Linked DNA regions of Homo sapiens: region 2 is linked to region 1. Evidence: fine-mapped expression QTL. A gene starts in region 1. The other region holds a variant in brackets. All regions are shown on one strand. Distances are between the middles of the regions. Region 1 holds the start of RAB38 (RAB38, member RAS oncogene family). Region 2 overlaps CTSC (cathepsin C).

Region 1 (16,315 bases):
AATACAGCCTGGCATAAACAAGTATGGACCATTTCTTGAGCATGCCAGTATCATGGAGCAGGCTGCACCTTGTGCTGGTAGGGTATATGCTTCTGATTTCATGGGCAGAGTCAAAGAGGAGGGCAACAAAATCTACAAAAAGAATGTTGGGGAGAGGTAGAATGGTGAAATGGCATACATATAAACTGCTATTATATATGCATGCTAAGCAGAGACATGACTTCTTTCAGACTCAAGGAGATTTATCATTTAAGGTTTGGTTTGGCTGCATAAACAGAAAACCCAACTCATCCAAAGGTTAAACCAAACAATGTATTCCTCTCACACATAAGTTCAGAGGTTGGGATAAGAGGAGTGAGTGTCCTATTGCAGTAGTAACTTTATTTTATTTTACTTTTTAGAGGCAGGGTCTTGCTATGTTGCCCAGTCTGGACTTGAACTCCTGGGCTAAAGTGAACCTCCCACTTCAGCCTCCCAGTAGTTGGGACTACAGGCAGATGCCAACATGCCCAGCTTGTAGTAATTTATTTTTGAAGATTGATCTGAGAGTGGTAAGGGATAGGAAAAAGCAGGGGAAACTGAATCAGGAAGATGTCCTTAGGGAACAACTACTTGATGAGATATTAAGAGGGACTGAAATGACAGCATGAATGAAAGAGACACCGGAGAGAAGAATTTGCAAGTTGGTGTTGAAATGGAAAAGTAGGGCACAAGCAGAAAAGAAGTGAAGATGATATCAAGGTTTGGATATTGGTGACCCTGGTGGGAATTTCAATCCAAATTGGGAAGAGACAGTCAATTCCCTTTCAGGCACATGGAGCTTGTCTTCATGAGCTAAGCCAGGGCTACTATGGCAGAGACACTCCAGGACAGCGTGAGTACCTTGTCTAACTGGTTTTGGAGTATCAGCCTGATCATGCCACCCATGAAATAGTGCGTTGGTTCCCTTAGGAGGGCACACCTCTCAGCGCTGATAAGATTAGTGTGATCAGAATGAGAAAGGTTGGCTAGAAAAATACTGAAACCTAAAACACCCAGCACTTGGTGGCCAGACAGGAAACTTCATTGTCTCTACACACTGAATGCTGAAACCTGGAACAGGAGCCACTGGAAATCCTCATCCAAGACCTATTCAGTACACATTTGACTTTAACTTTGTTTTCTTCTTTTGATATCAATAACATTTCCATAAAAATGAAATGAATATAGAAAAGCAGGAAAATATATAAAAAAGAAGCAATAATCTCACTATCCAGAGATAAACTCTAATATGTGGGTACATAATTTTCTGTACCTTTTTTCCATCGACAATGTGTGCATGTTTGTGTAAAATGGAAATTATGTATTTTATGCTAAATTGGGGACTCTAACTTTTTGTGATTTGTTGACCTCCCATTTAAAAATGTTATGAAAAAAATTGTGAACATTTTTCCAGCTGCAATATTTTCTTCAACATTGTTTATAAAGGCTGTATAATGTGCCAGCACATACGTATACCATTACAATATTTAACCTCATGTGTATTTAGGGAGTTGTGAATTTTTGTTTTTATAAGCAACACTGCAATCGGAATTCTTAAAGCTAAATCGTCACATACATCTTTAGTGATTTCCTTACCATAAATTCCTAAAAATGGAATTAACAAAGGGCACATGCATTTTAAGGTTTTTGATACATATAACCACATTTCCCTTTAACAACTTTTTCTTATGTTAGTCCCACCACAGGATCATATGATAGTATCCATTTTTTACATTCTCATCAAAATTGGATATTTTTAGTACTAAAATATATTTGTCAATTTAAAAAGTAAAAAATGGTATTACATTATTGCTTAATTTTCATACTTTTATTACTATCCTAGTGAAAAATACACTTTTCACATTATTGGCTTTTTGTTTGTCTTGTGTGGTCAATTGCTTATTTATATCTTTATCTAATTTAGTGTTTAAAAAATTATTAGAACAATTTAATATAAGGTATATTTCCTTTTGCCTGTCTTAAATGTTGTAAAATTTTTCTCATTCTGAAAGTATCATTTTTCTTGCTTCTGGTAATTGTTAATGTCTACACGTTTAGTTTTTTTTTTTTCCTTTTATTATTTCTGCCTTTCACATAATATTCAAAGGTCCTTTCTCCACAATAATAATGCATAAATATTCACCTTTTTGTTATAATAGTAATTTTGTGAAGTAGTGGAAATGCTGTCAGGAATTTGTCTGAGATGGGTAACAAAGAGAGAGGAATCAAGAGTGACTGAGTTTTTGAGCTTGGTAGACTTTGGTGAGGGTGGAACCACTGACCAAAAACCAGGAATACAGGAAAGGGAACAAGTCTGTTAGGGTAGATAATGAGTTCAGTTTTGCACATGTTGCATTTAAACTGTCTGCCAGAAAGCCTGGTAGAAATGCCCAACGGGCAGTTGGAACAAGTTTATGGAATGCAGGAGTAAGGTTGTGTTTTAAATACAGATATAGAAATCATCAGCAGACATTTGATAGTTTAACAACATGTTCTTTTCAGTGCATATCCTGGGCCAAGCACTATGCTAAGCACTTCACAGAATTTTATTTGGTCTTCTCAAAAAAAAAATAGGAGGTTAAAATTATTATCCTCATTTTATACATGAAGGGACAAGCTTGCAAAAGTTAAACTACTTTACAAAGTTCTTATGACTGGGTAGTGGTAGAACTTGAATGTGAAATCAGGTAAGCTCACCTGATTCCAGAGTTCCTAACCCCATTTGCTCTATTGTCACAGGAGTAGATGAGCTCAAGCAGGGAAAGTCAGAGTCCCAAGGATGAAGAATAGCAAACTTTAGTGGATGGGCAGAAAAGAAGGGAAGTTGTGAAGGAGTCTAAGAAGGTCAGAGTGGAAGGCAGAAGGTCATGTGTATACATGCTGATGCTTTAACCAGAATGGAAGCATTTTTGATGGCAGGGACTTATATCTTATACACTCTTTGAGATAAACGTGAGACCTTTCTTCTGACCCTGATCCTCAAAAAACTCTGTTACAATGCTTTGTACATAAATATTTCTTCGTTTATGCTGTGATGGTCTGTCAGTAATTTTCTTGCGTTAACCTTCTGAGCTAGACCCTACCAGTCTCTCTGTCATCACCCATTATGGAATAGGGGTTCATTCACTGTACAGCCTCAGTACTATCCTATCGCCTTCTCTGAGAGCAACAGAAGTAGATTCCTTGTATATGCTCTCTATGTGCACTGGGTCAGACCTCTCCCCACAAATGCACAGCATGCCACTTTTACTTGTGTTGACTTTCTGCCCGAGTTGGTGAGAGATTATGGGATATATCCTTTTATCTTTGAATCATAGATTTTTCTTTTCTTCCTTTATTGGCTGTTTCCCTGCATAGTTAAGACTTTATCAAATGGAAATAGAATCAATCTCTTTTCTTTATAGCCTGAATATTTAGTAGCATAGCAGAAACAAAGCTACAGTAGAAGCCTGGACCTGGAATTTATCACATGCTAAAGGAGTGTGGTATAGTAGAAAAAGCACAGATTTAGGAATTACTGGTTACGATTCTCATGCTGTCACTCCATATCTGTGACTTTGGAAAAATTATTTAAATTCTTTGAGCCCTATTTCCCTCATTATAAAGTGAAGATACTTGCTACAGAGTGGTCGTGAAGATCAAATAAACTTACCAAGATAAAGGGCTTAGCTCATTGTAGGTTCCCAGGATAAGGAAGTTGAAATTCTAGTACATACAGAATCATTTTTCTCCATGTTCTCAGATGCTTGCCTTTCGGCCATTCCATAGCTTATTTCCACTCATCCATGTTAGATGTGTTAGTAGAAAAATACACCCCGATTCAGCCATGCCTGTCTGGCACAGCTAAGGCACATAATTTTAGTTGGTGATAAATACACTGCTGAAAATGGTTTAGGTCATACTCTGGTTTTCTTGATTCATACTACTGGTGGGTTAAAAAATGCACTTACAATCAGTTTCTCATGATAACCCGTAAATATCCTATTGTAGTCTTTTTTTTTCTGGAAAAAAATCTAGCCAGAAATTTCTCATAGACTGAAGAGTATTTATTTCAAGAACATCCCATACAGAATCCATCTTGGCCTCTCTCCAAATAACCCAAAAGTTGCTTCCTACTTCTAGACATCTGCTGCAATCCTGAATCAATACTAGATGACTCAAATTGCAAGTTAGCACAGGTTTCAGACAAGCCTAGTGGGTAAAGAGAGAACTTTTTGAAGACAAGAAAGAAATAAGCTGCAACTTTAACTTGGCAGACCTATTTATTAAAATTGTGGTTTAGGAGAATTTTCCAAAGCCCCTATAGCTGTAGATCTCATTTGAGAGCCTCAACTTCTCCCTCTTCTTTAGGAATGAATATTCTTTAGGAAAGTCCTGGCTTGTTCCTGTTGTTTGGTGTAATTATTCATAGTGCCCCCTTTCACTCTCAAGAGTCATAGTTTGAATGATAAAATATATGGTCATTTCTTCCAGGCCTTTTGCAGAGTAAAATTCATCTGTTGTAAGATATATTTCTTGTATTAATCTAAGAAAAATTAGATTACCTTTTCTATAACAGAGCCCTTGGGACCCCATCTTGCAGTCATTTACATATTTCTTCAGAGCAATAATTAAAAGCTCACATAAGCTAATGAATAACTCCCCATGGCTCTCTTAATGGCAAAAGCAAATAATGTGACTTCACAGGGGCTCACCAAACACAGCAGCTCTAGGAGGAAAACATGAGGGTTTGTCCCTTCAAGTTTACATTTGCAAAGCAATTTGCAATCATTGTAGTTTTTCCATTTCATAAGACTAAGTACCCACATTGGACAGAAAGGGAATGGAGACTAAGAGAAACCTAATGCTGTGCCTTCTGGGATATCATTCTTGGCTTGAATTCTGAGCACTTTGTGGTCTCACACACCTTTTACAAACTTGAGTCATCAGCCTTCCCGACCTTGGTGAGAAGATGTGCTGTGGTTTAGCAATTTGAGGGTAGTAAGCTTGTCAAAACATCACCAGAGATGTTTTGAGAATTACTGTGGAGAACAGGTTTCCATGGTGCAGTGTGGCTGCTGGGAGGGGGACGAATGGCACAGCTGTTCTCTCCATGGGGAGGAAGCACTGGATCTTTTGTGTCAGAAAAAGCTGAGATCCTCCTGATAATCCTAAGCCATCTTGACAGGTATATGTTCAGGTTGGGGAAGATAGGTTCTGAAGAAGCATCATAATTGCAGGGGACAGGGTTGAATGAAAGAGGAGGCAAGAATGGTCTAGCTGCTTGATAATATCCTTTCCATCTATTCACTGTCTGGCTTGATCCAGTTTATAGTTTGTCCCTGGCTACCTGGCTCCCTGTCTGCAGCCTAGTTCTGAGTGTAGAAAATAAGTTCAAAGCAAGGAAGGGGAGTACATGAAGGTTTGTCCTCCAAAAAGAATGTTCTTGGATTGCCTTTGTCTTGTGGGAAAATGTACAGCAGCAGAGGAAAGAATAGCACCATGAAACCAGAGGAGAACTATGGCATCATGTTTGCTTTGAGATGGCCTTTCTTCCAAACCTAAAAGAGGAGAGAAAACATCACCTCTTTGGCAGTGGTGCTCTTGTGGGGTGACTAGAATCAGCTAGGGTGTCACTCCTACTAGACAATGTCTAGAAGACCCAGAATTCTGATATTTTAGAGTCCAAAGGACTTTCCAGAGATCTTGCAACCTAACTCCCTCATTTTACCCAAGGGACTTTCAGGTTCAGAGACCTAGGCGCCTTTTACGAAGATTTTACTGAACTGCTAGGCTGGGGTGCTTACCAAGCTACTGTAATCTAAAAGTCTTAAAAATATAAACCGAGAGTAATTTCTTCCCACTGTGAAGAATGATCATGAGACCTAAATGAGTACGGCTGGAAACAAAACTGCACATACTTCCTGCCTGGCCAAGGAACTTGCTCACCATGGTTGGCTGCTGTCCCTGAGAGAGGAATCTCCTACCCCCAGAGAGGCAATAAAACTGAAGCTTCAGGACCCCTTCCAAGGCCCTAGACCTAATTATATATTTTTGATTTTGCATTCTTTTGCTCAAAAAGCTACTTCCTCCAATTTTATCAGCTTCAGGACCAGAAATCCTGAACTTTGCCCTGCCTGTCCTACCTCATAAATCCAAATGTCTGATGTTCCAATATGCTCTTGCTCAAAAGAGAACAGATAAGGGTGAGGATGACTCTGCCGGGACCAGGCTTGGGAAAACAGTACGGGGCTGGTAAGAAAGTTGGGTTGGGTATAATTTTGAAGGCTGGCCCACAAGATGTCTCAAACTCCTACCTTGTTTCTACCCCAGGAGCTTGTTGGCCAGACAAAGCCTGTCTCTCAGATTTACAGACCCAGGATTTTAGAGCTGGCAAAGGTCTCATTTTGTCATCCTCCCTAATTTTGCAGGCATTTAGAATGGCTTAAGCATCTTGGGCTACTGAATTCCCCTCCCTGGGAAGTGAGGTGACATTGTTGGCTAATTCTTTAAGCAGGTAGAGTATTTGTCTCACTTGTTAGATGTGATCTTCTTGGTGTGTCCTCGCATGGGTGGAAACCAGTAAATGAGGCCTACCCAGCTAAGCACTTCAATAAAACACAAACGACTGCAATTCTACACACTGTCACTTAGTGTCCATTCTGAGCAAAACTTCTGAGTTACTCTCTGAGGAAAGATGAAACTGCACAGGACAGTGCCTGTGGACAGTATTTTAAGCTTGTCCCTCATTTCATAGTAATAGCTACAATTTATTTACCACCTACTATGGACCCAGCATTTTATCAACAATTTCATTTGTATTTATTTATTTATTTATTTATTTATTTATTTAGAGATAGAGTCTTGCTCAGGTTACCCAGGCTGGAGAGCAATGGTGTGATCTTGGCTCACTGCAACCTCTGCATCCCTGGTTCAAGATAGTCTCCTGTCTCAGCCTCTCAAGTAGCTGGGATTATAGTCACCTGCCACCACGCCCGGCTAATTTTTGTATTTTTAGTAGAGACGGGTTTCACCATGTTGGCCAGGCTGGTCTTGAACTCCTGACCTCAAGTGATTCACCCACCTCAGCCTCCCAAAGTGCTTGGATTACAATCATGAGCAACCATGCCCTGCCATAGGTATTATCATTCTCCTTTCGTTGATGTGGAAACCAAGGCTCAGAGGTTATGTGACTTGTCCCGGGTACACATCTTCAGCATCCCTCTGCTTGTTTGGGGCATGTGGAGGCTAAAGTTTAGGGAGTGTCAGGCCAGAAGAGGAAGGCAGAAAGACAATGGCCTTGCCAAACCTCCTTTCTCCCTTTCACACAGGCCTGTGTTTAAGTCCTAGTTCTAACACATACTAGTTATGTGTGCCCTTGAGAAAGCTGCTGTTAATCTTGGTTTCCTTATTTATAAATTGAAGAAAATAACCCACTTCATAAAGCAATTGAGAAGATGAAATGATAGAATGTGAGCAGAGCTCCTTCACAGCACATTCAGGTACAAAATAGCTCATTTTGGTATAAACTGCTCACCCCCTAGCCCTGAATGCCCAATTTCTCATTTTCTTTATGTCTTTACTAAATTGTCTCCATCTTACTGAAACCTTCCCTGGCCACCCTATCTAAAAGGCAAACCCCATATAATCTCTTCACATCCCCTTTCTGCCTTATTTTATTACCAATTAATATATGACAAATTGTATTTATTTTGTCTTGTCCTGTCTCCACCCACAAGAAGGTAAATTTTTCTTAGGCCAGTAGGCATTGTCTGCGTTAGGAGGATGATACAGAAATCCTAACGCAGACAATGCCTACTGGCCTCAAAAAAATTTACCTTCTTGTAGGTGGAGACAGACAAGACAAAATAAGTACAATTTGTCATATATTAATTGGTAATAAAATGTATATTGGTCAAATGAATGAAAACAAACAACAAAAACAACAAAAAGAAGTTGGGAACCTAAAGACCTATGTTTGAATTTGGTTTTTTTCCTTACTATTTGACTCTGGGTCCATTACTTAAAATGTCTGGTCCTTAGCTTCCTCATTTGTAAAATAGGAAGAAAAATGGTATCTATTATTAAGACAGCTGGGATGACTAAATGACATAATTTATAAACCCTCTGGCATATAGCGAGTGCTCAATAAATGTTTGCCATTATTATTATTTGTAATAATCTGACCGATTGTTAAAACTGTCTTTCTGTGCAGCTCTGAGTTTTTAGGATATGGGAAGAGGCTAAAAGTCACCAGTGCCCTTGGCATTTTCGGCCCAGTTGTCCTCCTTGTTAACTGATTACCAGTTGAATGGGTGTGAAAGTGCTCAGTGTTCCCACCTCCAAGCTGCTCAGAGGTCAGCATTGCCATTCATTGAGAAATAACAGGCTGTGAGAGCTCAAATGACTTACTTATGGTCCCTCAACTTAAAAACCAGGGCACGCAGGAACCAAGCCCAGCCAGTCTTGGGCTTCCTAATACTGTAATTTCTCTCTACAGTGTGGGGTAGTTAAGAGCCTGTGACTTCAGACCTGTGGTCAACGGGGCCTTTCACCGGCCATCTCCCGCAGAGTACTTTTTCACAATCAGTTTTCTCGCAAGCAAAACGTGGAAAATAAGATCCACACCTCACAAGTTTGTGGCCAGGGTCACAGGTGAAAACAGCTCTTCGGAAACTCTAAAGCGCCGGATAAATAAGCGCTGCAACAGGCAACCACACGCGAACCCCTTTCAGCTGCCAGTCCCGGGACTCGCTCCTGTCTCCTCCCCTCTCCAAGACCGCGGAGTAGGAAGGAGGATTAACCCCTAGGGGAGGAGTTCCGCCCCCCAGCCCCCGCCCCGCCGCCCACGCCTCTCTCTGCACCTACACTTGCGCTCCCCAAGTCTCTCTCGTGCGCAGAGCCCAGGCTGCGCTTCCCTGGTCAGGCACGGCACGTCTGGCCGGCCGCCAGGATGCAGGCCCCGCACAAGGAGCACCTGTACAAGTTGCTGGTGATTGGCGACCTGGGCGTGGGGAAGACCAGTATCATCAAGCGCTACGTGCACCAGAACTTCTCTTCGCACTACCGGGCCACAATCGGCGTGGACTTCGCGCTCAAGGTGCTCCACTGGGACCCGGAGACTGTGGTGCGCCTGCAGCTCTGGGATATCGCAGGTGAGCGCGGGGGGAGGGGGTCAGGGGGATAGAGCGCCTCGCGGCCGGTTTCCAGTCTCGAGGCAGCGGCTTGCGGCCAAGCGTGAGATTAAAATCACTAGGTCGCGAGGCAGTTTTTCCTGGTGGGCTGGAAACTTAGTTTCAAAGAAAAGAAAAACGTCTGAAACTTCAAGTGCATTCCCTGGCGCTTTTGGGCTATTGCTTTAGCTCCTTCCCGCACAGTCCCCTGGGATCTCTCTGCCCAGAGCAGGCCTCCCCAGGGAACCAGAGGAAGATTGTCTGCAATTGCATTCTGTTCTCCACTCCAGCTCGTTTTCTGGGCGCGGGCAGTTCTGCCAATGACGCAGCCCAGTGTCACGCACGTCCTTCCGTGCAGGGGCGGACCGAGGGGAAGCCCCTAGGCTGGTTCACAGAGGAAACCGGGATAGTTCCAGGCTAGCTGGAGTTTGCCCATTCCTGTCTTCAGTGGCTCACTTTATTTCAAATTTTGTCACCTTTCTCTCTGCCCTTAAGACAAAGGAGTTTGAGGGTTTTTGTTTTGTTTTTTTTTTTTTTTTTTTTTGCTTTTTGCTTACAGTAAGCCAAGTACTTTTGTGTGTATATGTCAGGGGCAAAGTATTCTTTCTCCCTCTCTTTCTGTATTTCTATCTCTCTGGCTCTCTGTCTTCTATGAAAAGGAGGTTGTGTGTATATTTTAAGGCCATTTTTATGTAAGGGCCTATGATAGCCTTATGATTTCTTGATTTGGCCCTAAAGTTTTCATTGAGAGATCTGAAAAATGAGAGGTTGTTTGTTTTTGTTTTTTACAATATTTAAAATCAGATTTTGACTCCACAGGTTTGTACCAGAAGTTAGGCCTAGTCAAAAGTGAGGGTGCAATGTATCTACTCCAAGTGTGAATCCTTGGACAAGGCTGTTTGCAACCTGCGCATGACCAACCCCTCATTACAGATTTTAGCCCTGCCACTAACTAACCTGCTCAGTGGCTTTGGACAAGTCTCTTCAGCTCAGTTGCATCGCTGTTAAGTGGAAAGGAGTTGGGCAAGGGTCAAGGATCTTCCTGCTCAGAAGTTTTAAAGTCCTCTGGGATTCTCCATGGGAACAACTTCAAACAGTCTTATTTCATGGTCTGTGACACCAGGAACCTTTCGTTATAAGTGCTGGACCCAAACTAGCCACTTCTGTTTCAGAAAATGGATTCATTTTAGCTGATGCATTTGATTGGAAACTCTTTATCATGGCTTGAAACTAGAACAAATGTGGAAAATTTTTGAAAGGGCATTTGTGATCTGGGGACTTTCGTGCCTCTTTAATCATGAACTGCCAGGCCTTTTTCTTTTAGCATGTGAACAGATGAACAGATTCATGCATTTGGAGTCATCTTCAGCTGCTCTAGTAGCAAGGGGGTTATCAGAGAACAGAAAATGTTATCAGCCACTGTTGGATGGGGCTTTTCATCTAAAAAAATTCTCTCTGTGTACTTTCTTGCTGCATGTCATAATGTCTGAAAACCCTTCTGGCTGCTCGAAAGTCCTCAGGATTCAGATTTAGAAACGGCTTACTGTTTAAACGGGGATGTAGCTGTAATTTGGACTTCTGTGTACAATCCAGGTAACAGCATGACAGCAGAGAAGTTCTATGTCTGTAGATTTCAGTCTCCTCACATAAACAGAAGAGATGGAAGGGTACAGTGATTAATAGCCCAAATTCCAGAGTTGAACTGCCTCCATCTGGATCCTTACTTTACTCTGCATGTAGTAGGCAATCTTAGGTAAGTTCTCTAACCTCCTTGTTTTGGTTTCCTTACTTGTAAACAGGGAGAATGCTTTCTCCCAATAGATGACAGGTGAGCAACCAACAGTGCTAGCTGAAGGTGATCATGCCTGTTCTCTAGGAGATCTGCAAGGATTATTATCACACTAGCTACCATTTTTTTAAGCCTATATAAATGCTAGGCAAGAAGGATATGATATACAAGTGCTTATTAATTCCTAATAAATTGTGATCCCAATATTACATATATATTTTGTCCCCAAGTTATCACCATTTTCAGCTTTGCTCCTGACATACTCTCAGGAGCAATTTAACTCCCAAGCTCGAAAGCACTTCGTTAGCCATGTTTTGTAGACTGAAGTTGCAGTGGAGGCTGTAGTCACAGAAGTCTGTATAAATAAGAAATCTGAAGTCTTGGGAAGTTCATTCTACAGATACTGCGGTGGTGTTACATTCAACATCTCAGTAGAGGAGCTTGTTTTTCCCAGAGCTCTAATGCTCAGTGGTAACCTGTCTTTAGCAGCCTTAAGCCCAAAGGCCCTGTTAGCTGAATTATAGATTGGACAGCAGGCACAGTGAATTGGGTGAAAGCTAGGCCACTGTAGGAAATGGTTGGAACATGCACGTGCTCCATGTTTCATGGTTTAAGCTGCATAGGGAGCCATGTGGGTTATGAGTTCATGTGAAATACAACCTCAACTGCCCACCCAGACTCCAGTCAGCCAGGTGTACCTTATAGTACTTTCAAATCACAGCCTGTCTGTCCACAGATAAGAATGCATCTCTCCGTCCTTAGTGTTCAACTCTGGTGTGTCCCCGGAGAGAGCAGGTAGTGGAGGTTAGTGGGCCTAGCTTTGAGAAGGTTGTGGGTGTTCAATGAGATAGAGAAGACCTGCACTGTTCTGATAGGATATCATATACATTTGTTATTAAGGGAATCTTGGCTCAGCTAGACTCTTGATACTCATTTGGTTCAATGCCAAATAGGGCCCTTTTTAATCTACTAAATTCCCATGATGTGTCTCTTATAGCCATGTAGATTGGCCAGTCTGATCTTGAAAGACTCCAAAAAGTATCTCTGGGGTCTTGTGAAGTAGGCCTTGAAACAAGATGATAAATCCCACCAAACCCCATAGGGGACAGCAGTTGGCCTGGATTCCAGTGATTCCATGCTAGAAGGTCAGCTGTGTGTTCAGAGGCTCCTGATAGAGTCAAAGAAATGAAGTAACTTTGCCTGAGGCCACCCAGCTAGTAGAGGAAGAGCCAGATTTGACCCGGTTCCGTTTCACTCAGAGTCAAGCCTTGCTGTTTGCACTTGCTGGCCTGTGAGTGCCTGGCACACAGCTGGCCCACAGGGATTATGCCTTCTTTTTAAAGGTGTTGTTTCATTAGTAGGTGGGTTAAACTTACCTTCTCCTTTCTAACTGGATTTTTGGTATTATTAAGTACCACTGTGCATTCAGTGAAAAGGAATGAATTAAAATCTATTTCTGAAAATTTTATCTTGATTAGGATGTGAATTTATAGAGTTTTTAAAAAAATAGGTCATTTAGGGAAAATGAAAACAAAAAGTTCACACTTGAGACTCCACTTTTTTATTACTCTCCAAATCCAGAGACTATAATTGCTCATTCACCCTTTCAAAAAGAACTGTACTATCTTGTCTAGAACTCTTGATGTGCTTTGGGACTCTGATCTAGGCATTGGGACATTTATAGGGATAGTAGCTAATATTTCTTAAGCCCTTATTCTTATGAATGTCCAGGCATATTTAATCTATAATTTCCCAGTATAATAGCTGGTTAGGCCACTAGAATTTAAAATTGACCATTGAATCTGTTTTCAAAAGATTTGCTCTACTGTCCTTAATTTGAAAACAGAGCACTTCAGACATAGTTTAAATATATTCTAAATTTAGATACTCTGAAAATATAATTAGGCAAACTGTGAAACCTTGCTGAACCTCAATTGCCTCATCTATAAAATGATGATTATTTAATTTTCCTGTGATACTTATTTTATCTTTTGTAGTCTCTGTAAGCAAAAGGTTTATTATCACTGTCCTCAGGGTATAGGTAGCACATGGTCATTTATTCCAGCTTCTTTACTTACTAGCTTTGTGACTTGTGTGAGTTACTTAGCCTCTGTGCCTTCGTTTTCTGTCTGTAAAATGGGAATAATAACAATACCTGCATCTTAGTATTTTTGTAAGAATTAAATGAGTTAATTTATGCAAAGCTGTGCCTGACACATAATAAATGCTGAATGAGTGTTAGCTATTATTCCTGTTGTCATAATTGTTATTATTACAGACTGTTTTCACATACATTTTCCCACTTGATCTCCCCAGCATTGCTGAGGGTGTAGACAAGCAGATAGTCCTAAACCCAATTTTATTTAAAAAGATAAAAAATGAGAGAGGTAAGAGAGTTGCCTGAGATCATAAGTGGCAGAGGAGAATAGGAACAGTCGGTCTGTTTAGCTTCAGCTTACTTGTATGAGTGAGATAACCAAGTCTGTTGGTAATAAAAAAACCCAATCCAGTTTTATATTGCTATAGTGGAAAATAAATTAAGTTGGCAGACAATTTAGAGAGTGTTTCGAGTGTTTCTTTGCTATGTAAAAGTTTGACTGCAGAGCTCTGCTAAATAACAAATGCCTCTAAATACTTAAAATAAGATCTACCCTATAAGAAAAATATTTCCACTCAAGGCACATCTATACCAGCTTCCCCCACCTAAGCCATGTGACATGACAGCAGAAGAATACATTAACTGTCCCATAGACAAAGTAACAGGATGAAGGCAGCCCAGGCCCAGTGTCAGGAGTCCTTAAACTGACTCTTCACACCAGCAACTCTGACACTTATTTGGGTCACATTGTTATGTTGTTTTAGAGTTTGTGAAGTTCTTTCAGGTTGTGAAATTCAACCAAAGATAGGATTCGGACTTAACTATCTCTTTAGTACCGATTTCTGAAAGACTATTTCTTCAAGCAGTTGTAGAAGATGGGTCTTAAATGTCAAAGTAGTAGGTCTAGGAATGTAGAAAGAGCTAAATTTGGCGATGAGTGTGTCAAATAAAACCCCCCAAAATGCATATCGAGTCTGAGCCATGCTCCACTGGGCAGTTTATTGCCTTGTTTCTAGCTTAGCTAATTACAGATTTTCTAAATGCCACGTAAAATAACATGCTATGTTCTTACGGGTAAATAATGTGTACAGTGAGCAAAAATGGTGAACTTTCAAAGTAGGAATGAGGGATATATGGAGAAAACGCCTCAAGGCAGGACATGTCGTGTCATCTGGGTTTTAGAGGACTGATTCTGATAGAAAAGCAAGTAGCAGCTTGACCAAGGAAAGCTAAGGCATTTGAGAGTGGGAGGGGATTGGAAAAAGTAGCTCTATATGTGTGATTGGTTTCTTCAGCAAATATATGTATGTATATATAAAGTGCCTGGTATGTGAAAGTACTTAGGTGAGGGAAAAACAAAGAAGGATAATAATTGAATAAGATTTACTTCTTCATCCCAGCTTCATCAGCATGATGACACAAAAACAAATCACTGTAACAATAAGTAAAGAGCATTGATAGACATAACTTCAGAACACTCTCATGGTGCAGAGATGTTGTCCACACCTCGTTCTCCTACTCTCTGAGACTAAATCTGAGGAAGTTGACAAAACCTCAAGGCTAGTGTGATGTTTCTTGTGCTCTTACCTAGCACCAGTCATTCCCTGTGAGTGCGTCAGGGCTGCACAACTTGAGACAGAATTTCATCATCTGGCCCTCTAATTCAGTCTCCTTTGCTTGAGGATCTCATGCATTCCCAGGGCTTTAACTCTATGCAGATGACTTTAAAACTATGCCTATATCCTTGACTACTCATGAGCTCAGGCTTACAATTCCATCTTCCTGCTGAACATCTCCTCTACAATATCTCACCTATACTGCCTGTGAACATGTGCATAACAAAGTTTGTGTGAAAACAGGATTGTTTTTTCTATTAATAAAGTAATATGTGCTCAGTGTAGCAAAGCTGGAAAACAGAAAAGAAAAACAAGAAAGAAATACAAACAATGTATGCATATTTGCCCCCACTTAATGATAAGTAGTAAATGATGCTATTTGTAAGTCTAAACTAGACATTTGTCCACATTCAGTGGACTTTCTAGTTTGTGTTAACCAAAATACCTTACCCCCAGTTACTTAGGCTTGAAACCTCTGCCATCTTTTCTCTTTTGACCCTCATATGTCACCAGTCTCCAAGTCAGATAGTACATATGCCTCTCTTTTCCCACTGCCATAGACCAGAGACAGCACTTTTTTACATACCTGTTCTGGATCATAGCCTCTTAGCTAGCTCTAATCTCTGCCTCCTCCAGTTCTCAGGTGTATCAAAGCCAAATTTATCTTCCCAGAACATCTTTCTTTTCTATTGGCTATAGATTACACATGCTGTGATGAGAACAATGGAGGGGATGAGAATAAGGTATTAGGGGGGCTGATAATTAGAAAATTAGAAATAAGATAGATCCAAGTCATAGAGAAATTGAGGAATGGGTTTGTGAAGTCCTTGAATTTAAGAAGTGACTGGAGTCCTTGAGGCCTGGTGAAGTCAAAAGGAAACCCAGGATGTCTCTCCTATTGTGGTCTTCTTGTGAGGAACAAAGAAACTGTCATTAAGGGCTCAAGTGCTACTTAATTTTTTTTGTTTTATTTTACTGCATTTTATATAAAAATGCAGTTTTAAAACTTGAAGATTTGAGAAGTATAAGATCTTGCCTGAGAAACTTTATTAATTCACTTGATAAGCAGAGAAATTTAGGGGTGATCGGAATAGGTTGATCTTTGCTCTTACGGACTTTTAGAGTCTGGTGTGGCATAAAGATATTTATTTCAAAATAATTATTTAGTCATTGAAAAGTGATCTGATGGGAAAGTATCACATGCTAAAAGAAAGTCAACCAGGGGACTTACCATAGCCATAACATGGAGATGAGAAGACATCATGCGGGCTTCAGTAATCTGACCTAGCTGAAGATTACAATGTGTGAGGAAGGAGGTGTTAAGAGGGATGCGGCAGACAAATTAGGAAAGGTCATATATGCCAAATTAAATGTTAAGAACGGTGAAAGTGAAAATTCCTTACATTTATCAATTTATCAAAGCAATATTTGCAATTTAAATACCACAGTAATTCTAACAAATAGGTCTTCTTACTTCCAGTTTCATAGATGAGGAAGCTGGGCCAAGCATAAGTAGAACATGACACCTGGTACATAATTGTTGCTTAGTAAAAGTGGTTTGGTGTTAAGCAGTCACTGAGGTTCATACTAAAGCCATCACTCATCTGGTGAATTTTTGAGAATAGATGTTTTGAGTTAC
Region 2 (16,315 bases), 120 kb before region 1:
TTTGTATTTTTAGTTGAAACAGGGTTTTGCCATGTTGGCCAGGCTGGTCTTGAACTCCTGACTTCAGGTGATCTGCCTACCTTGGCCTCCCAAAGTGCTGCAATTACAGATGTGAGCCACCAAACCTGGCCTGTCATGGCATTCTTAAACTGTCATGGTGCTGGTGGGAGTGTAGCAGTGAGGAAGACCAGAGGTCACTCTCATCGCCATCTTGGTTTTGGTGGGTTTTAGCTGGCTTCTTTACTGCAGCCTGTCTGTTCTATCAGCAAGGTCTTTATGACCTGAATCTTGTGCTGACCTCCTATCTCATTCTATGACTTAGAATGCCTTAACTGTCTGGGAATGCAGCCCAGTAGGTCTCAGCCTCATCTTACCCAGCTCCTATTCAAGATGGAGTTGCTCTGGGTCAAACACCTTTGACAACATCATTAAGCCTCAGTTCTCACACTGTTTTTGTTTTGTTTGTGTGTGCAATGATGGGCAAATCTCTGCCTTATAGGATGGTAGAAAAAAGGAACTTAATATTGTAATGACTGTTTTGTGCCAGATAATTGCTTTAAACTGTATCAGCATCTTATTTAGTCCTGTTAATGATATGAATGTTATCTTCATAACAGCTGCCATTTTATTAAGGACTTATCAGAGAAAAACACTGTTCTAAGCACTTGTTACCCATTATTACATTGAATTTTCATAACAACCCTTTGAGGTAAGCATGATTATACCCACTTTAATAGAAGTGAACTGTAGTTTTGTAATGTTAGGTTCCTTGCCAAATGTTACACAGATAGTAAGTGATAAAATCATATGCCCTGAAATTACATTATGCTGCCAAACTTAAATTTCTTTTTTATCCTTTATATTAGTATATTCTTAGGTTTAAACAAGACAACTAGTTAACACATACTAGATTTTGTCCACAGTTCCTGGCTCATAACTCCCATAGCCCTTGTCACTATCTTTTAACGTTGGGGCACATTAGGCCTCAGAAGTAGGCCTCAGAAAACAGAGTCTCTCTCTCTCTCTCTCTCTGATCTTCTTCCGCCCTCCTCTCACCTGCCCAGGGCAGCACTCTAATCTTCTCCTGCCTTTCTGATCTTGGGTCATAAGACCTTCATTTCCAAAGATGTCCTGTGTCATACCCTAAAGGAAGGAACACTGAACAGAGAGAGGCTCAGAAGAATCTGGACAGGCCTTGCTGTGTTTACATCATTCCCTTTATGTCCAGTCACATCTCTACATGGTTGTCAGTTGTGCCTATTTGATGAAGTCCCCATATAAGGCTCACAAGGACAGGGTGCAGAGAGCTTCCAGATAGCTGAACAAGTGGAAGTTCCTGGAGGGTGGCGTGTTCAGGGAGGGCATGGAAGCTGTGTGCCCCTTCCCCCATACCTTGCCCTACTCATTTCTTCATCTGTTTCATTTGTAGTATCTTTTATAATAAACCACTAAACATTAGTTAGTATTTCTCTGAGTTCTGTGAGTCACTCTAGCAAATTAATTGAACCCAAGGAGGGTGTCATAGGATCCCCACATTATAGCTGGTTGGCCAGAAGCACAGGTAAACAACCTAGGGCTTTCAATTGGCATGAGAAGTAGGGGGCAGTTTTGTGGGACGGAGCCCTCAGCCTGTGAGATCTGATGCCATCTCTAAGTACACAGTGTCAAAACTGGATTGGAGGACACCCAGCTAGTATTCACTGTGAAATTGGTTGCTTGCTTGATTTGTGGGGAAAAACCCACATGCATTTGATCACAGAAGTCTTTTGTGTTGACAGTTGATAGTGTTCAGTGAGAGAATTAAAAAAAAATTGAGTTTCTTCTTCAACATACTCTCTCAATGTGAAACCACAGAAACTATTTCCATTCAAAGATGGAAATGGTTTGTTTGCATCTTAGTTTTTATTTATACATCTTAGAAGAAATGTCCAAGCTTTGTTTTTTCTCTCACCCTATATATAAAATTACCTATGAGGCACAGATTTTTATGATCCTTGATTATATAGACTTTGTCCAAATTGTGTGTTTTATAGCATTACTGTAACTTGTTATAGTAATCTTTGTGTATATTATGTCTCTTAACATTGTCTTCCATATTGTTAATGACCATCTCATATTTATCTCTGTATCATGTATATCTTCAACCAATGTGACTGGCTTAGGAGAAAAAATTAGTGAACAATTAACTAGTGTTTGTGTAATCTATACAATTGTCAAGGTTACAATTGCTATTTTTGAAGAAATCGTTGTTGTTTTTCTCTTTGTTTCATCTCAGTTCCATTTTGTCATGTATTCTTTTTTTTTTTTTTTTTTTTTTTTTTGAGGCGGAGTCTTGCTCTGTCACCCGGGCTGGAGTGCAGTGGTGCAATCTCGGCTCACTGCAAGCTCCACCTCCTGGGTTCATGCCATTCTCCTGCCTCAGCCTCCCGAGTAGCTGGGACTACAGGCACCCGCCACCACGCCCAGCTAATTTTTTTTTGTATTTTTAGTAGGGACGGGGTTTCACTGTGTTAGCCAGGATGGTCTCAATCTCCTGACCTCGTGATCCGCCCGCCTCGGCCTCCCAATGCTGGGATTACAGGCGTGAGCCACCGCGCCTGGCCCCTTGTCATGTATTCTTAACCTGTGTTATATCTAAGAGAAGCTGTGAGAGACGGGACCATTTGTGGATAGGTGCAGAGGGCATGAAGTAGCCCAGAAAGAATCTTTGCCATTGACTAAATTTTAGCCTAGTAAAAAACATCTGGTAACCACTGAAAAACTAGAACAGTGTGATATGACAATGCCCAGTTGAATAAGAAATTCAAATAGTTTATAGTAACAAAAAATAATTTTTACCACATTGTGACTAGTGCCCTAAAAACAAATTTGAAGGAGCAGAGAGAGAGAGGAAGTGAGTTTTCGCTGGGGGCTGGTGAGTGGAGGCTACTTTATGAGCAGTTTTGAAAATTACAAGTTAGGGAAAAACTCTTAGGGGAGTTTTAAGTGGTGAGCAACAGGCACTTGAGGTTACAGGAGCAGCAGCATAAAGATATAGAACAGAGAGGCCATTTGGCAGTCTTGGGGAAACTCCAAGAAGTCGAATGTGTCTAAAGCTGTGGTTCTCTCTCTGTGTGTGTGTGTGTGTGTGTGTGTGCGCGCGTGTGTTTGTGTGTGTGTGCATGTGTATGTATGTGTGAAATCGCTAATACAGAGAAGCTGTTAGAACAATTTTCTCACTTCCCAAAAATGTCCGTTCATTCATGGGCCTAGGCAACTCTCCTTTGTGTGTCTTACAGCCCAACACTGTCATATAAGGTGTGGTTCTATAATGAAACAGTTTTATCTGTTGTTTACGGAGCTAGTCAGCCTGTGTTATGCTTGTTACTGGTTGAGGGTGTCCAGGTTCTTGGCTTCTTGAACAAAGAATTGGACAAAACTCACAAATGAGGCAAGGAAAGAATGAAGCAACAAAAGCGGAGATTTATTGAAAATGAAAGCACACTCCACAGGATGGGAGTGGGCCTAAGTAAATGATTCAAGGCCCTGGTTACAGAATTTTCTGGGGTTTCAATACCGTCTAGAGGTTTCCCATTGGTTACCTGGTGTATGCCTTATGTAAATGAAGAGGGTGGAGTTAAGTTACAAAGTCATTTACTCAGTATAGGCCTTGTGTTAATGGAGAGGGTGTTACTCCTGGGGGTTGTGGCCCATGTAAACGGAGAGGATGAAGTGAAGTGACAAAGCCCTTCGCATTCCTGCCATTGCTGAAGTGTTTCCACTTTATTTAGTTCTAGGAAGTCAGTGTGAATTGGCCTTATGTTCCCTGCCTCCAGAACCTGTTCTCCTGCCTCACATAGACCCTTTTTTCCCTTTGCCAACTTCACTTCTTTTACAGCCACCTCACTACCAATGTGTCTGTCTCCTAAGTCAAACATCAGTGATTCCTCTGTTTTCTCTAAACCCTTCTTATGTCTTCTACTTCTCATCTCTTTCTTGGTCAAAAATCTTTCAAAAATGAGTAAGAATGCAGCTATTCAGGCAAACTAAAAATAACATCACAGTGATATACAAAACCAGTGTCATTTCACAAAGGAAAATTATCAATACTAGATCCTGAAAAAGAAACAGCGAATGAAAGCCATTTACACAACTCCATTGTGTAATTGACACATTGAATCACTCATAAAACAGGTGCTCTGGGTCTGAATCTAGATCCTAGCTAGTCTGGTAGCTGAAATCATAGAATTATAGTAGAGTTTAGGAAATCATCCTCAAAGGAAAGATTATATGTTGATATCAAATGTATATTTCCTTTCTAGGCCCAAACCTGCACCACTGACTGCTGAAATACAGCAAAAGATTTTGCATTTGCCAACATCTTGGGACTGGAGAAATGTTCATGGTATCAATTTTGTCAGTCCTGTTCGAAACCAAGGTAAAAAAATAAGCCTAAGTTTTTTGTTAATTTGTTTGGAACTATTTATTGAACAGTTGCTCTGTGTGATGGATTTCGGGGATACCTAGATGGAATGGGCATGATCCCCTTTTTACAGAAATAGAAAATAGGTGGCCTATGAATTATTCTTTCCTTTTATATCCATGACAAACTTTAGTAAAAAATTTTCTTTTCTACTGAGCTTAGCATTTATTCAGTACTCTTCTCAATATATTTTCCAGGTAGCTAGTGACAATCAGAGTGATATGTAAGACAAACTCATTTGTCCTCCTAGTAGGAAAGATTCTAGTAGAAGCAAAGAATTGTGTACCATTCTGCAAGTGGTTTGTTGGAATCTTTCTTTGATACCTGTTCCTGTATTCCCCCACCCCCATTAATTTAGTCATTAATTACTACATGAACCCGTAAAATAAATCCTTAAATTATTTTCCTGGTAGATTTTTTGAGCTGTGTAAGGACCTTTCAATTCACTTTACATTAGAATACGATATGTGATGGTAAGTATTAACCCAGCTTCCTGAGTGATGGCGTGAGGGCGGAACCCAGGTTCATGAAAAGTATTCCTATTATTGAATTTTACCAGTTATTTTCAGAAGTTTGATACAATGTGAGTTGATTTCATAACATGTCCTCTAACTGCACTTGATAGCAAATTATCTTGTTATCCTGAGTTGTAGCCAACAATGACTTGGAGAATCTATGCAATACTCAGTTTTATTACTTCTAAGCTCATTTTGAAGATAATACTACCCATGGCTGATTTGTTACTATAAAATAGGTTTAGTATTTGCTGTCTGGAAACATTCTGATTAGTGTCTCCTGGGAGGATTATAAATTTATAGTACCCAAAGATAAACTGTTGTTTCCCTTTCCTAAACTTTTAGTGATAATCAGTCTCTGCCGTGTCTCATTTTCATCACTTGCCCTCCAAGCTCCCATCTCACTGAATTCTTGCAGTGTTCTGAATGTTGAGAGCCCCAAGTGGGTCTTATAACAGCCAGTCAGCAACATTTCTGTTTTTCATCTGACACCAAGGGTCTCGTCTCTTTGCTTTTCTACCAGTTATTCTGGGCTCTTCAGCTCTAAAGAAAGTATAGGTCCTGAAATCTTTCCCTACCTTCTCAATTTCCTGGGGAGGGCTTCTTTGGAAAGTGGGATTGGAAATAAGATAAATTTGAAGATAATTGAGAAATGAATGGAAAGTGAAATTGAAGGGTCCATGTTAAGAGATTGCAAGTTATGCTATCACCAAATAGATTTTTTGTGCCTGAGAGGATTAATTCATAGTGCATATTATGTGTTGACTTTATCATTGAGGTCCTGGCACATGATAGCATTGGCATGATATAATTTGAGCTACTGATACTATAGTGTTGCTTCTGGTGTTGTTACCAGAACATCTAAAATATATTAGGATTTTTTTAATGGCAGAGGAAATGAAGACTAATATGACATAGTCCTTGTCCTAGTGATTTACAGTTTAGCAAGACATACAAGCAAAACATTAAAGTAAAGCATGATAACTACTTTAATAAAGCATTTTTTAAATTCATTGGTAACATAAGAGAAGGTAGAAGAGTTTAGCAAACCCTTCCCAAAAGAAATGATTGACAAGTTATATGAGATAATAATTCAGGGAAAGGAAATTCGACTTTCTAAAGCCAAATTATTTGACATTGGTTTTCATATAGCTTGGTAAAAGCTGTTATTTTCTCCCATGTTCTTTATTCTTTGACTGTTATAAGTATGATTTGTACAGAGAAATGGCAATTTCAAAACAGAGGGCTTTGATGGATTAATTGCTTTGAATTGATCCCTCATCTACAGTATCTTGTCAGGTACTTGAGAAAATAATGTACTTAAAGTTTCCTCTTTTGACTTTCTTTTGGTATTCTATACTGTAAGTTGGGGAAAAAAGTATTTTCTCTTCCTGCTAATTGGGCTACTTGAAAATTCCCACCAACTTTGCCAATACCAGTGTTCTGTATAACCCAGAATTCAGAATTAGCTGCAATTAAGGGAATTCACAGCTTTTCTGTAGTCAGAGAGCAAATTGAAATTAAAGAAAAAAGAAATAGTGGGAGGACAAATGAGGTTTTACCTTTACACTTGAAAACAGATTTAAGAACAAGCCTTATACCTAGATTTATTAATACTTTGAGGTATGAGAGGGAAGAGAAGCTTAGAAATACGGCAGAATGGGCTTTCTTTGTTCTTCTCCCAGCTATGCTGTTTTTATTTATTATTGTATTTTTAAGAGAGAAGGGAAGTGTCTCTCCTGGGTCACATTAATTAGGAAATACAGAGTGTTTTCATAATGCGTAAAGTCTAGTCCATTTAAGTCTTGTTTCAAAATGCTATTTATATTATTTGAGCAGGAAGGCAGAGACCTTAAACTGCTCCACCCAATTCATTTTACACAAAAGATTAAAAAGAAAAAAACAGTGTCAAAAGGTCAAGTGCCCAGTGTTGCACAACTAATGATAGGCAAAACAAGAGAGGAGGGGAAAAAAAAGAATCCTGACTCCCGACTCCTAGTTCAGTGTGTTCTTCACTGTTAGAAGGTGCTGCTGAACATAGTTATACCATATGAAGATCACACTATCTATTTGAGATTGTAGAAATTTGATTACTGCAGAGCTCTGGCTGGGCTAGATTCACTTCTTATTCTTTATTGCATTGCAGTATTCTTAAGAGATAAATGGCTCTTTTAGAATCAGATTGGCCTTGGCTGTTGAAATGAGGCATTAATTACCTTGGTAGCTGACACATTCTTACAGGTCAGGGGCTTGATGAAGTTTATCTTCTTCCCTTGTTCCTGTGATTGCTCTGTAAATAGAACACATTCAGAGCCCTTGAATGCACTTGCAGCCTGTGCCTCCCACAGTGAT[C/T]GATGGTCAGATAATGGGAGTTTAATGACCAGTACTGAGAGAGATTATTTCCATGGCTGCTATGGGCCAAGAAAGCTGGGTGGTCAGAAAGGGACCTTTTCCAGACTCTCCTGGGTTGTGTTATTTCTTTGACATTGGTTTCCTTTCATGAGGCGCCAAGGTGTATTTGTAAGTTGTCCAGTGTTGCACAGCTAATGAGGGGCAAAACAAGAAAGGAGGAAAAAAAAAGTATCCTCACTCCTAGTTCAGTGTGTTCTTCACTGTTGGAAGGTACTGCTGAACACAGTTATATGTTCAGTGTACAATGTACAATGTTCTTTGACATTCCGTCATTTGAAGGATGGGTCCTATGGATAGTATCATCTGCATGGTTTTGAAAACAAAAGATATAAGCTAATTTTGCCCTGTCTAGTGACTACGAGACAGGGAGAGAAAATCTGAATATTTGTTAAAGTAGACACAGACCCATAAATTGAAAAGGACACTAATCCTGCCTTAGGAGACAGTAAGGCACTTGTCCCTGCTATCTATTAGCTGTGTGTCCTTGGACAGCTCATTGCTTCTTTCTGAGCCACCGTTACACGTTATCTATCAAGTGAGCAGGTTGTACACTAGATGAATTCACAGGTCCTTCTTCCAAGTGCTTTTCTAATCTTCATAATTTAGATAATCTCTCAGTAGCAAAACAGTGTACAATATGGTCAATCTGAGATTTTTAGGGGGAGAATTTTAGGGAACATCAGAAATGGCAGTAGTTAAAAGGAAATAGGACTCACAGGCTGACTTCTCTCTATAACTTCACATGGTAGAAGGGATGAGAGTTCTCTCTGGAGCCTTTTGTATTAGGTCACTAATCCCAAAGGCCCCACCTCCTAAGACCATCACTTTTGGGATTGGGGTTTTAACATGATTTTAGAGGGACATAAACCTTCATCTCATTGCATTAGAGATATTTGAAAGCTCAGCTCACGTGTATTCCTCCACAGCTCACATGTATTCCTCCATCACCCAACCTGATGGCTTTGAACGTTGTAGACATAAATCCTTTCATCATTATCAAGAATATTGCCAAAAGCTTCTCAGAAATTATGAGGGGTTTTTTTAGTTTCTAAAATATTCTCAAAGAAAGTCCCATGTACTAATGTTTGCCTTTTGATGAAAAAGGATGAAATCTTAATGATTGCCTTAATAAGCTCAACAATGCTTGTTAGTTGAGTCTTCTTATTGTGCTGATTCTTATAAACAACAACATTCAGTATAAACATTAATGTATGTGATTCACTAAGGTTTTTGCATGATTCTCTGTGAGGCTTCAGATGTCTCTTGGATTATGTGTCTTTTTTTCATCGCCAGCATCCTGTGGCAGCTGCTACTCATTTGCTTCTATGGGTATGCTAGAAGCGAGAATCCGTATACTAACCAACAATTCTCAGACCCCAATCCTAAGCCCTCAGGAGGTTGTGTCTTGTAGCCAGTATGCTCAAGGTAAGTGTTGCATTTCAGACACCATTTATGAGCTATTTACCTGTGTGCAGCTGGCTGTTGTTGGCAAAGGCAAAAGGATGATGCAGTAGAGAGAGCGCAGTGTCTATAGTCAGAAAATCTGAGTGCAAGTCTGGCCCTATCACTTATTAATGGATGATTGCTCATGGAATTTACTGTACCATCCAGCAAAATGTCAATAGTTACTATATATTGAGTGAGCTCTGCTTGTTACATATATTGCCTAACAATGCTCAAAACTCTGAGAAGTAGTAAGTATAATCCCTATTTATGGGCGGGGAACAGGAACTAAGAAATTTTTCTAATAATTTGAAGGTCTCACAGCTTTTAGCATTGGAGTTTCACTTCTAATCATCGTCTCCAAAACCCAACTTTTATTAAAACTATACTAACACTGGTTTCTCTCTGGGAGAATTTTAAAATTCTGTACTTAGGGCTGGGCACAGTGGCTTATGCCTATAACCCTATCACTTTGGGAGGCTGAGATGGGTGAATCTCTTGAGTCCTAGAGTTTGAGACCAGCCTGGGCAACACGGCGAAACCCCTTCTCTATTAAAAATACAAAAAATTAGCTGGGCGTGGTGGTGTGTGCTTGTAGTCCCAGCTATTCAGGAGGCGGAGGTGTAAGAATCACCTGAGCCCAGGAGGTCAAGGCTGCAGTGAGCCGATATCATGCCACTGCACTCCAGCCTGGGCAAACGGAGTGAGGCCCTGTTATGAAAAAAAAAAAATCTGTACTTAGGCTTTCAGATCAGGCTGTATGTGATGTATGTCGAAAACACAGCTATAATTGATTGAGGGAGAAACGTTACCATTTTAAAGTTTATGCTTTCAAGCCCAGATTTGGCCACTAGGAATTTCCCAGCTCACTAGTGAAACTGCTGATGAGTGATTATTTGCCAGTGAGCCTTTCATTCTTTCTAAAATATGTACTACTAGTTGTGACTTGTAGGCTATAGGGGCTATAATATATCAAGACAATCTTTATCCTCATGAAGCTTACAGTTAAGTAAGAGATAGAGATTAAATAATTATAACAACAGAGTGAAGAACAGTGAAGAAAAAGTACAGAGTTATAATATATATAATAGGGCCAGGACTGCATGAGGAAGGTAGGAAAGACATTTCGGCAAGAGGTTGTCAGGGAAAAGACTTGCTTGAGAAAGAGCCAAGTTGTGGGGTCTGGCTGCTTAGCAATGACCATAATACCTAACTTTTGCTATTTTTACATGAAGTAACTAATTTAACCCTATGAGGAAAGTACTACTACCATCTAGATTTTACAGGTAAGTAAGCAGAGATACAGAGAAGTTAAACTCTTCACACGGCTTTGGCTTTAAACCTATATAGGCTTCAGAGCCTCCCCACTTAACCACTTTGCCATAGCTACATCCATATTAGGTGCTAAGTAGATATCTGTTAAGTAGAAGGAGGATGAAAGGATAGTTAGCTAGTTGGAAAATGGATGGATGAATGAAGTGATGCTTAAGCTAAGAACAACTTTCAGGGGTAACATGCAAAGAATAATGGAGCAAAGAAGAAAAAATAGAAAATGGGATAATCCTTTTTCTACTAAGGGGTAACCATGTGTGTTATTCATCTTCAGGCTGTGAAGGCGGCTTCCCATACCTTATTGCAGGAAAGTACGCCCAAGATTTTGGGCTGGTGGAAGAAGCTTGCTTCCCCTACACAGGCACTGATTCTCCATGCAAAATGAAGGAAGACTGCTTTCGTTATTACTCCTCTGAGTACCACTATGTAGGAGGTTTCTATGGAGGCTGCAATGAAGCCCTGATGAAGCTTGAGTTGGTCCATCATGGGCCCATGGCAGTTGCTTTTGAAGTATATGATGACTTCCTCCACTACAAAAAGGGGATCTACCACCACACTGGTCTAAGAGACCCTTTCAACCCCTTTGAGCTGACTAATCATGCTGTTCTGCTTGTGGGCTATGGCACTGACTCAGCCTCTGGGATGGATTACTGGATTGTTAAAAACAGCTGGGGCACCGGCTGGGGTGAGAATGGCTACTTCCGGATCCGCAGAGGAACTGATGAGTGTGCAATTGAGAGCATAGCAGTGGCAGCCACACCAATTCCTAAATTGTAGGGTATGCCTTCCAGTATTTCATAATGATCTGCATCAGTTGTAAAGGGGAATTGGTATATTCACAGACTGTAGACTTTCAGCAGCAATCTCAGAAGCTTACAAATAGATTTCCATGAAGATATTTGTCTTCAGAATTAAAACTGCCCTTAATTTTAATATACCTTTCAATCGGCCACTGGCCATTTTTTTCTAAGTATTCAATTAAGTGGGAATTTTCTGGAAGATGGTCAGCTATGAAGTAATAGAGTTTGCTTAATCATTTGTAATTCAAACATGCTATATTTTTTAAAATCAATGTGAAAACATAGACTTATTTTTAAATTGTACCAATCACAAGAAAATAATGGCAATAATTATCAAAACTTTTAAAATAGATGCTCATATTTTTAAAATAAAGTTTTAAAAATAACTGCATTATGGAGTTTATGTTTACTTCAGGGAATTTTTATCACTGACTCAGTAAGATTCACTTATGTTACCTATGTAAGCATTTATTTAAGAAGGAAAAGCATTTGAAGATATTTCAATTAAAAACAAAACTATGAACCTTTATGACAGGGAGATATACTCAGATAATGCCTAGTGAATCCTAAAATTATCCTTGGATGTTTGATGAGTCTGAGACCTCAGAGAAAAGAAATAAGAGTTTTGACAAAATCTGGATATTGGTGAATTTATTTTCTATGGTGTGTATCTTGTATTTGGGAGTATTGCTTAGTCTTCAGTAGGTGAGCAATAATAGCTTAATGAGTGAAATACTAGCAGCTTAGATTTAAATAGATTTTTGGAATCTCCCAGAGATATTTCACAGTGGATATGAAACCTCTATGCTAAGTAACATATGCCTTCTCTTAGAAATTATGTAACAGGAGAATAAGGCAGTCAGAGCTCTGAAACATAAACACGGACCACAGCCTTTTCAAGCTGGAAAGGACCATAAAGATCATGTAATTTAAACTCTTTGCACAGATAGAGACTCAACTTAGAGGGCAAGAGATGTGTCCAAGGTCACACAGCTGGCAAGTGATGGAGTCATGCTTAAAACTTAGATCTTCGAAACCGAGTTCTCTTTGAGCACCTTCGAGCACTGAATCTCAGCATTTCCCACCAGAGTATCTGCAATCACCAGGGATACTAGCTGCATGCTTGGAAATTTCACCTTAACATTCTGAGTTTCAGAGTTTTGTGCAAAACCCACGTATTTTCTGCATTAAAATTCACTATAATGATGTTTTTACCCTCCTTGAACTGCAGTAGGGCTCCAGGAGTATGCACCATTTAAAGTTTGGCTTCCTGGACCTCCTGGCATGCTGCCACATACCTTTGATCTTTTCACCACATGGTGGCACAGAAACAGCACTGGAAGGCATAGCCAGGGTCGGAATCATTGGAAGGCCTCCAAGGAGATGAGATACATTTTCTTTTTATTGTTACTGATTGAATGTAATTTCCATCCTATTTTGTGCCCAGCCTCACTGCTATGTGAACATATAAACAGACCTTTGAAATCAAGCATAAGTTTTTTTTCACTAAAATTCATGAAGATACTATCTGTCAGTTTAACAAACACAATTCTATTTAACATGTAAGCATGAATTTATTCTCTAGTTTTCCAGTTGGACAGCAGTCGGCTGACACATGAGAACAACTCATCATGATGTAGAGTGCCTGTGATTTTGCACTATTTCATGAGGGCCCTGACTGGCTCTTAAGTAAATTCATTGCTGGTGTCATTCATTAAATACTTTAGGAAATATTAAATGGCTAAATACTGGTGTGAACCTAACTGGCATGGAAGTCAGATTATACAACATGTTTGCTTGAGGACAAGCAATGATTTGAAGAGGCCCTAAGTTTTCAGAGATTATGAGGGATTGCCCAGAATAAGAACTTAAGATAGACTACATTTCAACTTGGATTTATCTACTGTCGAAGTCTGCTTTTCCTGTTTCTGTATGACAGAAAGATCATTTATATCATCCATGTTGCAGATTTCATCAAATACAGTGACTAAATGGAACATTAGGGTTCCACAAACCATGCGATTAGACTGTTAAGCTGTACAAAAAGCAGTTGGTGTCAGTATCTAGAACTTTTTATATTGATGCTAATAGAACACATACTCGGAGTCTTTTAACAAATGGAGCTCTAGAAAAAAAAATCAGATGGGAACTCTGGCTAACCTCCCCAAAGACATTCCCAGAAAATCTACAAGGATTATCTACATAAATGATGCCACAGGTCACAAAGAAGAAAAATAATATTTAGCTGGGCAGTCTAACACAAGCATAATATTGACTCTGGAGCTGTAGTGCCTGGATAAGAGTTTTGACTCTGTATCTTATTAGCCATGAAACCTTAGGCAGTTTCCTTATCTACCTATGCACTGTGCATCCTTTCTTTCTTTCTTTCTTTCTTTCTTTCTTTCTTTCTTTCATCTCTCTCTCTCCTTCCTTCCTTCCTCCTTCCTCCTTCCCTCCCTCCCTCCCTCTTCTTTTCTTGTCTTTCTTTACTTTTTCTTTTTTCTTTTCCTTCCTTTTCCTTCCTTCTTCCTTCTTCCTTCCTTCTTCCTCCTTCCTTCCTTCCTTCTCCTTCCTTCCTTCTTCCTTCTCCTTCCTTCCTTTTTCCTTCTCCTTCCTTCTTCCTTCTCCTTCCTTCTTCCTTCTCCTTCCTTCCTTCCTTTTCTTTTCTTTCTTTTCTGTAAAAGTAGAGAAAATGGCATAGATATCTCTCTCACTGTCCGAATTTCTGACTTTTTTTTTGAGTCATGCTCACTGCAGCCTCAACCTCTTGGGACCAAGCCATCCTCCCACCTCAGCCTCCTGTGTACCTGGGACCACAGGTGCATGCCACCATACCCGGCTAATGAATTTGTCCTCTCTGAACCATTACCATTGCAACAAAGGAACTAAATGTATTTGTATTTGCATTTTTAACAGCATTACTTGCTATCTAAACTCAGGCCCTTCATCATTCCAAATGGAGGTGCTAAAGATAATTAAAGACAATGCAGTTTCCCTGATCATAAAAACTTGCTCACAGAACTCAGGAACTGAATAGATTTGGATAGTAAGGAATATGTATACATATTTCATAGAGTTCTCTGAGGGTTAAATGCCATATATATATATATATATATATATATATATATATATATATATGAAGTATATAGAACAGTGCTTAGCATATGGTAAGGAGTAAATAAATATTATCTTTTTCTGAACTCAAATTGTAAAATAATATTTTGCTATGAGGAATCAGATAAGATGTATTCTATAAATAAGCTCTATGACAAGAGGATAGAGAAGGGCTTATGAGGGGTTTTTTGTTTGTTTTTTTAAGGGCGAAAAGAACCTACAGAGGAACACTAGCACAAGGAAACGCACAGAGAAAAGCAAAAAGCTTTATGAGTTAGGCATATGGTTTTAATTTTATTTTTTACTATAAAATTTTTTTATCCCTCACTACCACCATTCTTGTGTTGCTGCCTGTGGGAAGAGAACAAGTCTGAGAGGTGATGGAGTTTGAGAGACTACCACAGGGATGAGTAACAGGACCCAGCCAGGGAAAAGACATTGCAACTTTGAAGTGAAAAAGACTGAAGGTAATGTAAAGTCATAATAATTTGATTTTCCTATTCAGGTTCTAAAAGCATGAAGATAAAGTAAGCATAACAGATTCACATCACATTAATGCTGGAAGGTTATCTAGTCCACCTCTTGCTAAAAATGGGCCTTGAGAGGTGAAGTAACATGCCTGAGCTTCCAGCTAATAAAGATAAATCTATGCTTCAATATGTCCAGAACTTTCTATTGTACCTGCTGCCTTCCAATTAAGAAAAATGGCAAAATAATGTTTCCATTCTTAAATGTTGTGAGACCAGTAACCTCACCTTGTTCTTTAAAATCATTTCCAAGATTTGTGCCACCTCCCAGAAATCCTGTTCTCATTTCTTTGGGGCAGGTACTCTGAGTGCCAATCCATGTGTGGTGGTTTGGAAAGATTAATATAACAGTTTTCTTCTAAATATAGTGATGTTAATATAGTTATATCTCTTAACTCTAATGAAGGTTTATTTTTGGTTTAAAGCTAAGTAGAATCTTCCTGACCAAGTTTGGGGAGCTTTAGATATATCAGAATCTTCTTTGATGGGCAGCACATGGACTTAGAATTGTGTATTGGTAGTGGGTCAGTTAGTCACTGGGCCTAATGAAATATTAACTGTAAAGTATTGACCTCATTGAATTTTAGTTCCGATTAAAAGTGCAAATTTGCGTGAAATTGCCTGGGACATAAAATAATTGGAACTTCAGCAGACTTTCTGGTCATGCCATACTATGTCCTCCTAGTGATAGGAAACTGGAAATTCAGGAGATAAACTAACTCAGGCAGAAAATGCAGCACATGCCTTTTGTGTGTGTGTTTTTCCTTTTTCCTTTGAGAAGTCCATTTTTCAATATCCCTTTTCTTTAAATCTCTTTTAAGAGTTAGTAGAAGAAATTTAACCTCTTCTTTTCCAACTTTGAGGATGTGATGCTGATGTAATACTTTGGTTTTTAACTTTATGTTCTTAAAGACAATTTGTCTTCTTGAAATTCAAGTCTGTAGGTGGTTAAATGGGGAAAGAATGTGATAAACTTCAGACTCCCCAAGTTGAGAAAAAAATAGCAGACTTCTTTCTTCCTCTAATGCAAAAGGTCTTAAAGAGATTGAAATCCTAGCAATCAATTGAAAGAAATAAGTTAGAGAAATAGCTTTCTCCTGAGGAAATGAGGGAAACGCCATAAAACTAAGCGTTGTGCATTAAAGTAATCATTGAGATGATTTTTTTTTTCTGTAATGTATTTTCTGGACCTTCAAAAGTATTGAATAGTTTCACTGTAGTTTAAGATAAATGACAGAAAATAAGTGCTTTTAGTATCAGATTTTTATACCTTCATTCTCTCTTTTTGGGGGTTTCTGAAGAACTAAAAGTCTGCTTTTCTTTTAGATTGACTATTTCTATGCCACTATAAGAAATGGGCACTATTCCCAAGAGATAGCAGGTGCAATCCTAGTTCAGCAGGCTAAAATTCAGTTGGGTGAGAAGGATAAGCCTATGGAAAGAAAGTAAACAAAACAGCATTGTGCCACTAGAGAACCCAGAAATAAATTCATAGATTTTCAGCCAACTGACAAAGTTGCCAAGAACATACACTAGGAAAAGAACACCCTCTTCAATAAATGGTGCTGGGGAAACTGGATATCCATGATGTGGAGGAGAATGAAACTAGATCCTTATGACTCACCATATACCAAAGTCAACTCAACATGAATTAAAGACTTAAATGTAAGACCTGAAACTATACAAATACTAGAAGAAAACATAGGAAAT

Evidence for each region.
Region 2: its variant is fine-mapped to the expression of RAB38 in uterus (GTEx, PIP 0.98).

The regions. Positions count from the first base shown.
Region 1 is chr11:88,168,023-88,184,337 of GRCh38, reverse strand. It overlaps RAB38 (RAB38, member RAS oncogene family), which reads left to right and starts at 8,895. Exons shown (of 3, transcript NM_022337.3): 1 at 8,895-9,155. The coding sequence starts at 8,954. It overlaps MIR3166 (microRNA 3166), which reads right to left and starts at 7,836; the gene lies at 7,745-7,836.
Region 2 is chr11:88,288,632-88,304,946 of GRCh38, reverse strand. It overlaps CTSC (cathepsin C), which reads left to right. Exons shown (of 7, transcript NM_001814.6): 5 at 4,302-4,417; 6 at 8,683-8,814; 7 at 10,439-11,355. The coding sequence ends at 10,941. Among named protein-coding and RNA genes, the nearest start is that of CTSC, 41 kb to the left of the region's middle. RefSeq lists enhancers at 1,484-1,543, 6,872-7,565. The variant C/T (reference allele first, on the strand shown) is at 7,330.